Linked DNA regions of Homo sapiens: region 2 is linked to region 1. Evidence: fine-mapped expression QTL. A gene starts in region 1. The other region holds a variant in brackets. All regions are shown on one strand. Distances are from middle to middle.

Region 1 (5,390 bases):
AGCAAGACTCCTTCTCAAAAAAAAAAAAAAAAAAAAAAAAAGAAATAATAACAGTACTGACCTCATAGTTGTAAGGATTAAAATAATGTTGGCTAATTAGAATAATGCTAATGTCATATTAATGTCATATACAGATATCTTATCTCTGGTATCAGGGGGCTTCAACTTTAAGTATCACATAGAAAAGAGCATTCAGAAAAACAGCATTTATTTCTATTTGCAATGGACGGTCAAAGGGCAAAGTTGACCTAAACTAGGGTTTTCAAATATATGTATTATATTTAAGCCATGTGACAGTGTTCTTTTGCATTCTGCATTATGTCCCTAAGAGGTCAAGAGTATTTTTTCCCACTAATTGCTTTCTTCATGTAAATTGCTGGAGGAACTCTGGAGTGGAGAGGACCTCAAGGGTTCTACTGATAAGGTCCAAAGGAGTATTCCTATCTGAATAGTGTGAATTTCATTAAAACTAATAAAATTTTCTTTTAAGTAACATTCTGGAAGTTTTTCAAGGTAAGTCATAATGGGTAAGAACAGTTGCTATTCCTTTTATCTTTCTAAAAAAAGTCAATTTATGTTCAAATTTTAAAGTTTGTAAAGCTGTGGGTAGAGATATGCAGCTTATACACTGTAAGTCACAGAAACCTTTTCTTCAATGATTATTCTGCTTAGGACCTATATTATAAAACTGACCATAAAGCGCGTACCAATTTTGGCTCCAGCAGGATCCACAAAAACGTGATATTGAACTCCAAGGGGTAACTCCTTTCTTTTCAGCTTTTCTGACAGCTGTTGGTTGTAAGCAAGTTCCTGTTTTTCATCAGCCGCTGTTATTGCAACTATGTCCCAGAATTCTCCACGTGCTACAAGTTTGCCTATTTGGAAAAAGCAAGGAAATGAAAACAAAAATTATCAGAATTTTCTAGTTGCCACAGGTTTGCCTATTGAGAAAGATGATAAAGAAGGTAATATCCATTATCATCTTCCAAAATGTATCTTTGGCTTTTGAAAGTTAGGGAATAATTAGTGGTGCATTAATACGATTCAAAATAGTTATAATGAAGACTGTTCACAAGTTCCTTTTTTTTCTTTTAGATCACTCCCTCCTTTTATGGTTTGCAATCCAATTTAATTATAAATTCTGAATGACATAATGTTTCTTGATTAAGAGAGCGACTTTTAACTTGCCAAAGACTATTGCCTCAATTCTTCAATAAGAAGAGGAGATAAACATAAACAAATCTCCAGCTTTGCAAATCAATTCTTATGTATCACGGACACTTGGTGTTAGGTGACTAAGAAAGACACAACCCAAAGATCCCTTCCCTCAATGTTGCTGTTTATAAATGTGGGTACTTTATTTTCTATTACTTTAAGATGAACCATGCAAACTTACATAGGCTGTTAGAATATAACATAAAATTCTGGATAACAGAAGGTCCCAACTCTCTGATGACATCTTTAAAAGACAGTGTGCACTTTTAGTAGACAGTTGGAATCTCTTTATTGATAAACAAAATGATTTAGCATTTTAATTAGTTAACAAACAGAACTTGTCAGCTAGAATCTAATAGTCCTGAAAGTTTTACTGTTATCCAAGAATTAGTCCCAGTATTTTTTAAGCAGTCACTGCAACACAAATATAATCACTTTTATTAGACAGGTGTACAGGGATTAAGTGTCATAGCCAATTTTTTGATAACAAATTTCTTCCTTTTAATTTTTAATCCATAATTCCTCCATGTTCTGTTACTCCCTCAACAAACGGTTACATTACAGAAGTAGATGAACGTAATGTAAAGCGTGAAGTAGATAGGGGGCTGGCATCTACTCATAAAGTTCAAAATACTGTGCTTCGTATCTTTTAGATTTATTTAAAGCAACTTTTATTAATGAGCTAATCAATGCATAACTTCACTAGTAAGATTTTCTTCTTCTTCCTCCGCCCTCATTTTTAATATCTATACTACTAAGAATAAAGTAAGCAACAAGCATGTCAAGCAGGGACAGTGAAAAGAATAAAAAACTCAAAAGGATTATTAGCTAGCTACTCCTGGGGAGCGTCATAGGCCTACAGATGAGAAGTAAACGGGAAGTGACAGTCCAGCAAACCTCCTGGCACGTAAAAGCACCCTCCCTCTGCATTGCCCAGGAGAACTCCGGTGCCTTCTCTGGTACCTCTTAGCTCGGAAAACCTCCGCAATTTTCGCTGGGTGGCTTCTCGCAGCGATACTTCCGGAGGGTCCCTAGCAGCTGCCATAGCCCCACCTTCCCTGAGACCGCGCCGCACAGCACGCATGCGCCCTGGGGTGCGCCTCCGCCCGGTTGTTTCTGACCCGCCCCCTCCGTGCGTCGCCCACGTAACCACGCCCCCGGAGCGCCTTGGCTGGCGCCCGGAAAACCATGATGTGGAGAACTTGGATGTTGTCTTGTTTCTCTAGCAACGGTCTCAGGAGCAGATGGCCGCCCAGCGATTTGTCTGACTGTGTTGGGGCTGGGCCACTTGTCTCCAACTCATAAGGGCTTGCAGCCCAGTTGACCCGGTGAGTGGTTCAGTTTGGGTGACAAAATTGTTAGAACCGACCCGCTAAGGATAAGGCGAAACTACATTCTAGCTTCCCAGCTTTCACATCAAAGGCGGTTCGTCCTAACTGGTGGTTTGTTTCAGCCTGGAGCAGTTCCCCAGGATAGCCTGATAGAAGATCTCCGCCATCTCTCCTTTCCCCCGCCACCCCGGGCCATCTGCCCCCAACCCTGGGTCATGATACATACACAGTCTGAATATTTAAAATCTCTGCTCTTTCTAGGAACCTTAAGTTTGTGGTTCCTAGAGAGTGAGCCACCCCACCCCTCTGTTTTTTCTTAGTAGGCTACACACGACAGCCTCTCAAATAGTGTCTTTGAAAGTTGTATAAAATTCAGTCCGCAACCAGGCTCCAAATATTTTTGGTATTTTGGTTTCTTCTCTGGCATTCTTTTGTATATGCAGATTAATCTAGAATGTTCAATAACACTCTTAGGAATAAGTCAGCCTTTTTAGGTGTTTTTTTGGGTAGCTATATAAAGGTGTTCCTGTTATAGAACACGAGGTTTCTTGGTTTTACAGACCACTTCATCTTTACACAGAAGAAAACTGAATCAGAGAATAGTGAGTTAGTCAAGGTATCACAATTAGTAAGTAATAAAAGATTTAAGAAATATATTTCAATCCCAAACCCAGAACTTGTGGTATTTCACCATACCGTTTGATTTTTTGAGACGATTTCTCTGTATCAACGTCTTCATTAGGTACGTAGACATTCAGGGCACCATAAACTCTTGTCATAAATTTACTTAGTTTTTCTTCTCAGACTTGTTATACAATCGTGTTCTAATAGTGGAAACATTTGGATAAAATGGCAGATTAGATTACTCTTTCATAGTTTTACATTTAAAACTTCATTAATTAAAAAAACAGTATCTTATTGAAGAACATTTAGAAAATACAGAGACTTGAGTGAAAGTAACCAAAGGAGAAAGTAGCGAGAGAAGGTCAGAGAGAGAACAAAGGGCCATAGGAAGAATTTTGGTTTTTACTCTTGAGGGAAACAAAGCCATTGCAGGGTTTTGAAGTGACTTGGCTTATGTTTAAAGAGATCACTCGGAGATAGGAGAATAGATTATAATGGGGGATGAGGCAATGATAGAAGCAGGGAGACTTCTTTGGAGGTTACTGCAATATTGCAGGTGAGAGCTGGTGAAGGCTTGACCAGGATGGTAGCAGTGGGAATGGTGAGAAGTTGGTCAGATTCTGGATATATTTTTAAGACAAAAACAATAAAATGTGCTGATGGAATTAATGGGTGTGGACTGTAAGAGAAAAAGAGGAGTCAAAATGACTGCCTTGGGATGGATTGGCCATCAATTAAGATGGGTAAGTTTCCGACTGAGGAAGGTTTTTGGGGTAATAGGGTCCAGAATTTGATTTTGGACATGTGGAATAAAGAGACATGTGTATGCAGTGAATATGTAATGGAAGTTTGTGTGTGTATGTGTCTGTATGCATTATACATACGAGTCTAGAATTCAGGAGAGAGGTCTGGGCTAGAGATACAATTTTGGGAATTGTCAGCAAGAAGATAGAATTAATTTTAACTGTGGAACTAAGTGAGGTCCCAAGGGAGTGAAGGTCAGCAGAGCCTATATGTTTGGGGTCTGTATATTCTAATAAGGTGAAATAAAGAAGGAAGAAGTAACCAAATAAAAAATCCAGTGGTAACAATTGTGAGGAGACAAACAGAGTGATGTGTTAGATTCTATCATACAGAATATTAAATAGAGTATTTATTGGATCTAGGACGGTATCATACAGAATATTAGAGTATTTCTTGGATCTGGGAAGGATGGCCATAGAAATTGGATATTATTTTTTCTCAATATGACTATATCATGCAATCAAAATTTGCTGGAAATAAATATACCATATTATCAGCTATGGCTTCTGTTTTCTTTCTTTTCTCAAATTTTCATTAATATTAATTTTTAGTAAAAAAAAAATTAAAAAATACTATATATATGAGTAGGAGTAAATTTCCGTGGCAGTTGATTGTTGGAGGCAAAAAAAGTTTAGGGATTTTATTTAAGTTCATATTCACTATAATAAAACAGTGTGATATGACTGTTTAACATCTTAAGCTACCAGAGTATTATTATACTAGAGAATTCGCCACAGAGTTTTTCCAGGTATTTATCAGAATGTCATTTTACCAGAGTAAAATATATCAATCCAGCCAAGCTGTAAGCCCATTAATTCTGCACAAATCAAACACACAGGAAATAATCTGTTTAGTTTTGGATTCCACATTTTTAAAAAGATGTTGAACATACTAGACTATAATAAATTGAAAAATTATATTCTGTGGAGGCATTTGGGCTTTTTATTTCCAGGAGGAGAGTAGAGAGTATCTGAAGAGCTGCCATAAGGAAGAATGAGATAGATTTTTTAAAGCAACTTTATTGAGGTACAGGTTTAGAACATTTTCATCCCCCCATTAAAATGTCTTCCAACCCATTTACAGTTAATGCCAGTTACACTGTTTTTTTATTACTACAGGCATATAACTATGACTGTTGTGTGGAAATTATAGAGAAGAATGTTTTAATTTTCCCCCCTTCTTTATATGAGGAAGTTGAAGCCAAATGAATAGGGTCCTGGATTATATACTGTGGAGCTCGTAGTGCATGCTGTGGTCAGGCCAAGCTAGGGCTGTACTTGTTTCCAGTCCTTGTGCTTCATGGCTCTGTTTAACCACTGTTTCCTCCTGTTACCCTTCCTGACATGCAACGAAAGCAAAAATTGTCTTTTTGCAGTTTGTTTTATTTCGATTTATTTACTCAGCTAGCCTGTTCTC
Region 2 (5,390 bases), 24 kb before region 1:
GTTATGATCCCTTTGGATATTTTATCACTATCTAGCTCCTTCTCTACCTCCTCTTTAAGGCCATTAACTCCGAGATTTTTCCTTTTGAGGCTATTTTCTAGATCATGTAGGCATGCTTCATTCTTTTTTATTCTTTTGTCTCCTCTGTGTATTTTCAAATAGCCTGTCTTTAAGCTCATTAGTTCTTTTTTCTGTTTGACCAGTTCTGCTATTAAGACTCTCATGCATTCTTCAATATATGCCAATTGCATTTCTAAACTCCATAATTTCTGCTTGATTTTTAAAAAATTATTTCAATCTCTTTGTTAAATTTCTCTGAGTGAATTCTGAGTTCTCTGTGTTATCTTGAATTTCTTTGAGTTTCCTCAAAACAGCTACTTTAAATTCTCTGAAAAATTAAATATCTCTGTCTCTGCAGGATTGGTCACTCGTGTCTTATTTAGTTCATTTGGCAACATCATGTTTTCCCGAAAAGCCTTGATGTTTGTGGATATTCATCTTTGGGCATTGAAGAGTAAGGTGTTTATTGTAATCTTTGCTGTCTGGGCTTGTTCGTATTTGTTCTTCTTGGGAAGACTTTCCAGGTATTCCAAAGTACTTGGGTGTTGTTGTCTAAGCCACATCTGTATTCAGGGGCACCCCAAGCCTATTAATGCTATAACTGTTGGAGACTTGTGGAGGTATTACCTTGATAGTCTTGGATAAGATCTGGAATAATTCTCTGAATTTTTAGGCAGAGACTCTTGTTCTCTTCCCTTACTTTCTCACAAACTAACAAAATCTTTCTCTCTGTCCTGAGCTGACTGAAACTGGAAGTGGGATGACACAAGCATCCCTGTGGCCACCACCACTGGGGCTTCACACTGGGTCTCACTCAAGATCCACTATAACCTCTACCTGGCTACCGCCTATGTTCACTCAAGGCTCTGGGCTCTATAATCAGCAGGAGGAGGGGAAAGCCAATCAGGTTTGTGTCCTACTTTTCAGGATGGCAAGATTCTCCAGGTCCTGTGCAGGTCCAGAGGTGCCATCTTGGAGCCAGGTACTAAAGTCAAAACCTTGGAAGTCTACCTGGTGTTTTATTGCACTTTGGCTGAGCTGGCACCCAAACAATGAGACACAGTCTTTTCCACTCTTCCCTCCCCTTTCCATAGGCAGAGGAACGTCACACAGTGACTACCACCATCACTGGCCCATGAGGAGTACAGCCAGACTACTGCCAATGTTCCTTTAAGACCCAAGGGCTGTTAAGTCAGCTTGTGGTGAATGCCACCTGGCCCGGGACTCAACTTTCAGGGCAATGGTCTCACCTCTAGCCCAGGGCAGGTCTCAAAACGCTGTCCAAGAGCCAAGGCCTGGAATTAGGGACCTTAAGAGCTTGGTGCTCTTCCTGACTGTGGCTGAGCTGATACCTAAGCTGCAAGACAAAGTCCCCTTTATTTTCTCTCTGCTTTTCTCAAGTAGAAGGTGTCTCTCCCTGTAGCTACCACAGCTGGAAAAGTGCTGAGTCTCATCTGAATCCAGCAAGTCTCAGAGTCTCACCCAAAGTGCACAGCATACAACCTAAGTATCACTGCTGGTTATTCAGGGCCCAAAGGCTGTTTAGTCAGCAGGTGATGGGTCCTGCCAAAACTTGGTCCTTCCCTTCAGGGCAGCAGGTTCGTTTCTGGCCCAGGGTATGTTTAGAAATGTTGTCCTGAAGCTAGAGCCTAGAAGGGGCACCTCATGACTCTGACTGGTGCCATATTCTACCGTGACTGAGCTGGTATCGAAGATGGATGACCAAGTCCTCTTTACTCTTTCCTCTTCTTTTTGAGAGTTTTCTTTTCACTTGTCAATTATCTACCTGTGGCTGTTCCTCAAAGTGAAAAGAAATACATTTTGATATAGGCAGGACAAATTATTTAAAGATTTGAAAAGTGGGACTATATAATGTGGTTGTTAGAGAATCCATAGATATGTAGCTATTATGTAGCAAAATTAAATAAACAAGTTTGGGTGGTTCCCCCTTGTTGACTCAGTGACTAATTCCCTGTTGCTTACTGCAGCAGACTCCAGTGATAGAGAAAGCAGGAAGCTGCTGTGTCTGCTACACTGTGGCCACTTAAAATTAAAATCGGTCCTGGTAGTTCTTCAACTTTAAGGGAAATGCCATGCCTGAACCGAGATCGCGCCATTGCACTCCAGCCTGGGCAACAAGAGCGAAACCCTGTCTCAAAAAAAAAAAGTTGAAGGCCCTGAGACAGAAGAGCATTATCTAAGCACCATGCCTCTTGGTTTATGTAAGATCTTTGAGTTAGCATGATGAGTGATTCCATAGGACCAGTTCTTTGCTTATTCCCGCCAAGCAGAGAAAGTCTCAGTAAGCTCTCTGTCTGTAGTTACCATTATTTTTGTTACATCTTCTCCTATATCTTCTTAATGCCAGAATGGTGATTATAGTTATCATGTACTATGTTTTTTAACCCCCTTGTCACCATTCTCTATAACAGTGGCAGAAATAGCATTAGCAATTTGTGTGTACGCAAAGGTTCATGATCTTCCTTCATCGTATTGGCAAGCTCAGCACTCCACCAATAAGAACTAACTCTGATTCAATTGTATTTTGTTTCTATACATTGTATATTTAGTTGTGGAGCTAGACTGGCTCTTTTCATACTTGAAATTCCACATATATAATCTTTAACATCTTGCATAAAATTTAAAGGAGTGCTAGGAGTTAGTATAATGCTGTTGGGGTAAAAAAAAAAAAAAAA[AC/C]TCAGCTTTCATTCATAACCCCATTAGTGGATCAACACATTTCATTTGGTGAATTAATAGAAAGTTGCAGTTTGTATGGTCACACAGATTTCTGATTTCTTTTTGCAGAGACTATTGTCTCTGAAGCCAATTATTTAGGGACTTGTTATAGCAAGTAATATTTGAGTGCATCCTTAATGCCAGGCAGACTTTTAATAATAAACCCAAGTTGAGTGCTTCCAATTCAACATATGTCCTCATAGATTTATATCTCATTTTATTGGCATCCAAATAATATACCCTTCCCAACCAGAATTCAAGTTTAGTATCTAAGTATATACAAAAAGATTTACATTTTAATTACAATTTGTGAAAAACTTCATGTTTTCCTTACAACTGTACTCCCCTTCTTCAACATGGATTATCAAGAGTAGACTATAATTATTATGAATTTCAAGACCACTTGTTTTCACAGAAAGCCATTTTTAGGAGTTCTTGCTACTAGTAAGCCTAAATTGTACTTCCTTGTCTGGTAATATGGAGAGTGATTGCTCTAGTATTCTTGCCTTTATCTCCAGGAAAGTCATATTCCTGCTTCAAAATGTCAGCTGTTCTGAGGAGTCTTTACCAACTTCACAGAACATTTTGGCCATGTTGTCCTTGCTGCTCCCGTTGTATCTCATACCCTTTTTTGTCTCTTAAACCCATAATTTGGTCACATGAAGTTCACACTAATGGAGAAGAAAAATTGTGAATTAATGGACTTAAGCTCAAGCTAGAAACTTTAAAAATGAAATTGTCATCAATACTAAGAGGCATGTTCTGAATTACATAAGGAAATTGTACATGCAAAGGTGTTAGAAGCACCTCTGTGTTGTCCGGGGGTCTCATTCTTCCCGTACCAGTAACTTTATAATTTAAGGTCACCCCCTCTTGAGGTCCAAAGCAAATGATGCAAAGACAATTCTAACTGTGGTGTTTCTGATGCCTGGGTTTATTAAATCATAATAGAATATACTGGATTTGATTACAAGTCTTGAGTCTATTTGTTTAAGTTGGCTCACCATGTGTTATCATTTCCTAACTGCTGGCCGGAGTTTCCCAGGTTGAGGTCTAGGTCTGAGTACACAAATAGTTACCTAAAATTATCACCCATATTTCCCTAGTTCATATATACAGCCAGAGAATAAATGATAGGGCCTATGGTAAAGGGTAACACGGCATTTGGAAAATGTGTAGGCCTTAAGCATATCAGAACGAGAGAGAAATGCATATTATCACATGAGAGTTTTCACAAATTAACTCCATCATTATCTTTCTGAAACTCTCATTGCCCATGATGCTCGGTGCAGCTATATAACAGTTAACCTATTAGTGAACTACAATAGTTATGTTCGGGTCCCCTAAAGACTATATATTCTCTCTTTGACTTATTATATAAAACTCATTTCTTCTACAGAGTCTGGACATGTACTAATTTACAAAGTCACCTTGAGATGATCTATCAGGGCTGCATCCTTTAATGTTACTGAAGATGGCTGTTAGTAACTATTTCATTTTGAAGACTAAACATATTTATATTTGGTAAGTTTATACTATAATTTTATATGTGTGCATATATACTATATATAATACAATGTATACATTACATAAATATATATACATATATACAATACATATATGTAGTTTAAGAATAGGCAAGAAATTAAACACATTTAAATCCTACTCTAAGTTGCTATCCATGCAGCATCTGCTTCTATTAAGGGATTTATTATAGAATATAGAATTAATGCTTTTATCCCTCCTCCCAGGCAATAAGTAACTTGAATGCAGGCATCTTTGCATTTGAAATAGCCCACCACAGTTCCTTATAAGTATAGACATAAATTTAATTGTTTTGGAATGAATTGAACTGAATAAAATTGAACTGAACTGAAAGGGACTGAACCAATTGAATTGCTTAGAATACATTCCTTCAGTAAGAGGAATATTGCTAAGGTCGGAAAAGAGGTAAAGTGAAACTAGAGTAGGCCATTGCAATTCTGCAGCCTAAATACTACAGGCTTTTGAAATTCTATGCAAGGAAAATTCACACAAATATTAGTCTCTTTGTTTTCCTCATCTTCCTGTATATGTAATCCTTAAGAGGTTTTTGCATTAGTTGGAGTTGCTAGCATTAGTAATTTATACAAGGGATTTGATGTTCTAGCAATAACTTACAAACCAGACTTTCAGGGAGATTTTACAAACTACAATTACAAGAACCTACTCGTGATCAACTAAATCAGAATCTGCTGAGGTTAGGTCCTTGAATTAGAAATAAAATAAAACTCCAAAAAGTGGTTTGACACAGCTTGTCTATAAGGAAGTATAAGGCAGGGCCCTTGCTTACAGAGCTTACAACCTAATTTGATATTCAAAAATCTAACTAACTTATTTTACAAAGTAGCTTTTGATGAGTATCAAAAAAAAAAAAAAAAAACTTCCACATGCTATGAAAGAGGAAGAAAGGGTTAATCGGGCTAGTAGTACAGAAGGATTTTTGAATCTGGCATGATTTGCAATAAGTCTTGCTACTTGTAGATTTTTAAAAATCTTAGACAGTGGGAAAATAAATAACAATTTAATATCTAAAATATGATAAATCAAGAGTC

Which allele goes with the higher level. Alleles are on the strand shown, and positions count from the first base shown. SD is a standard deviation of normalised expression in the study named.
In carriers of allele C in region 2, the expression in fetal neocortex of the gene that starts at base 2,297 in region 1 tends to be lower than with AC alone (moderate effect, 0.67 SD a copy in Walker 2019).

Evidence for each region.
Region 2: its variant is fine-mapped to the expression of FPGT-TNNI3K in fetal neocortex (Walker 2019, PIP 0.95). The same link has a PIP of 0.9 or more in prefrontal cortex.

What each region holds. Positions count from the first base shown.
Region 1 is chr1:74,195,149-74,200,538 of GRCh38, reverse strand. FPGT-TNNI3K (FPGT-TNNI3K readthrough) reads right to left here and starts at 2,297. Exons shown (of 27, transcript NM_001112808.3): 1 at 2,179-2,297; 2 at 708-875. The coding sequence starts at 2,260. It overlaps LRRIQ3 (leucine rich repeats and IQ motif containing 3), which reads left to right and starts at 2,363. Exons shown (of 8, transcript NM_001105659.2): 1 at 2,363-2,543. FPGT (fucose-1-phosphate guanylyltransferase) reads right to left here and starts at 2,297. Exons shown (of 4, transcript NM_003838.5): 1 at 2,179-2,297; 2 at 708-875. The coding sequence starts at 2,260. RefSeq lists a silencer at 2,360-2,459.
Region 2 is chr1:74,219,545-74,224,934 of GRCh38, reverse strand. All of the region lies in intron 3 of FPGT-TNNI3K (FPGT-TNNI3K readthrough), which reads right to left. Among named protein-coding and RNA genes, the nearest start is that of TNNI3K, 13 kb to the left of the region's middle. The variant AC/C (reference allele first, on the strand shown) is at 2,757.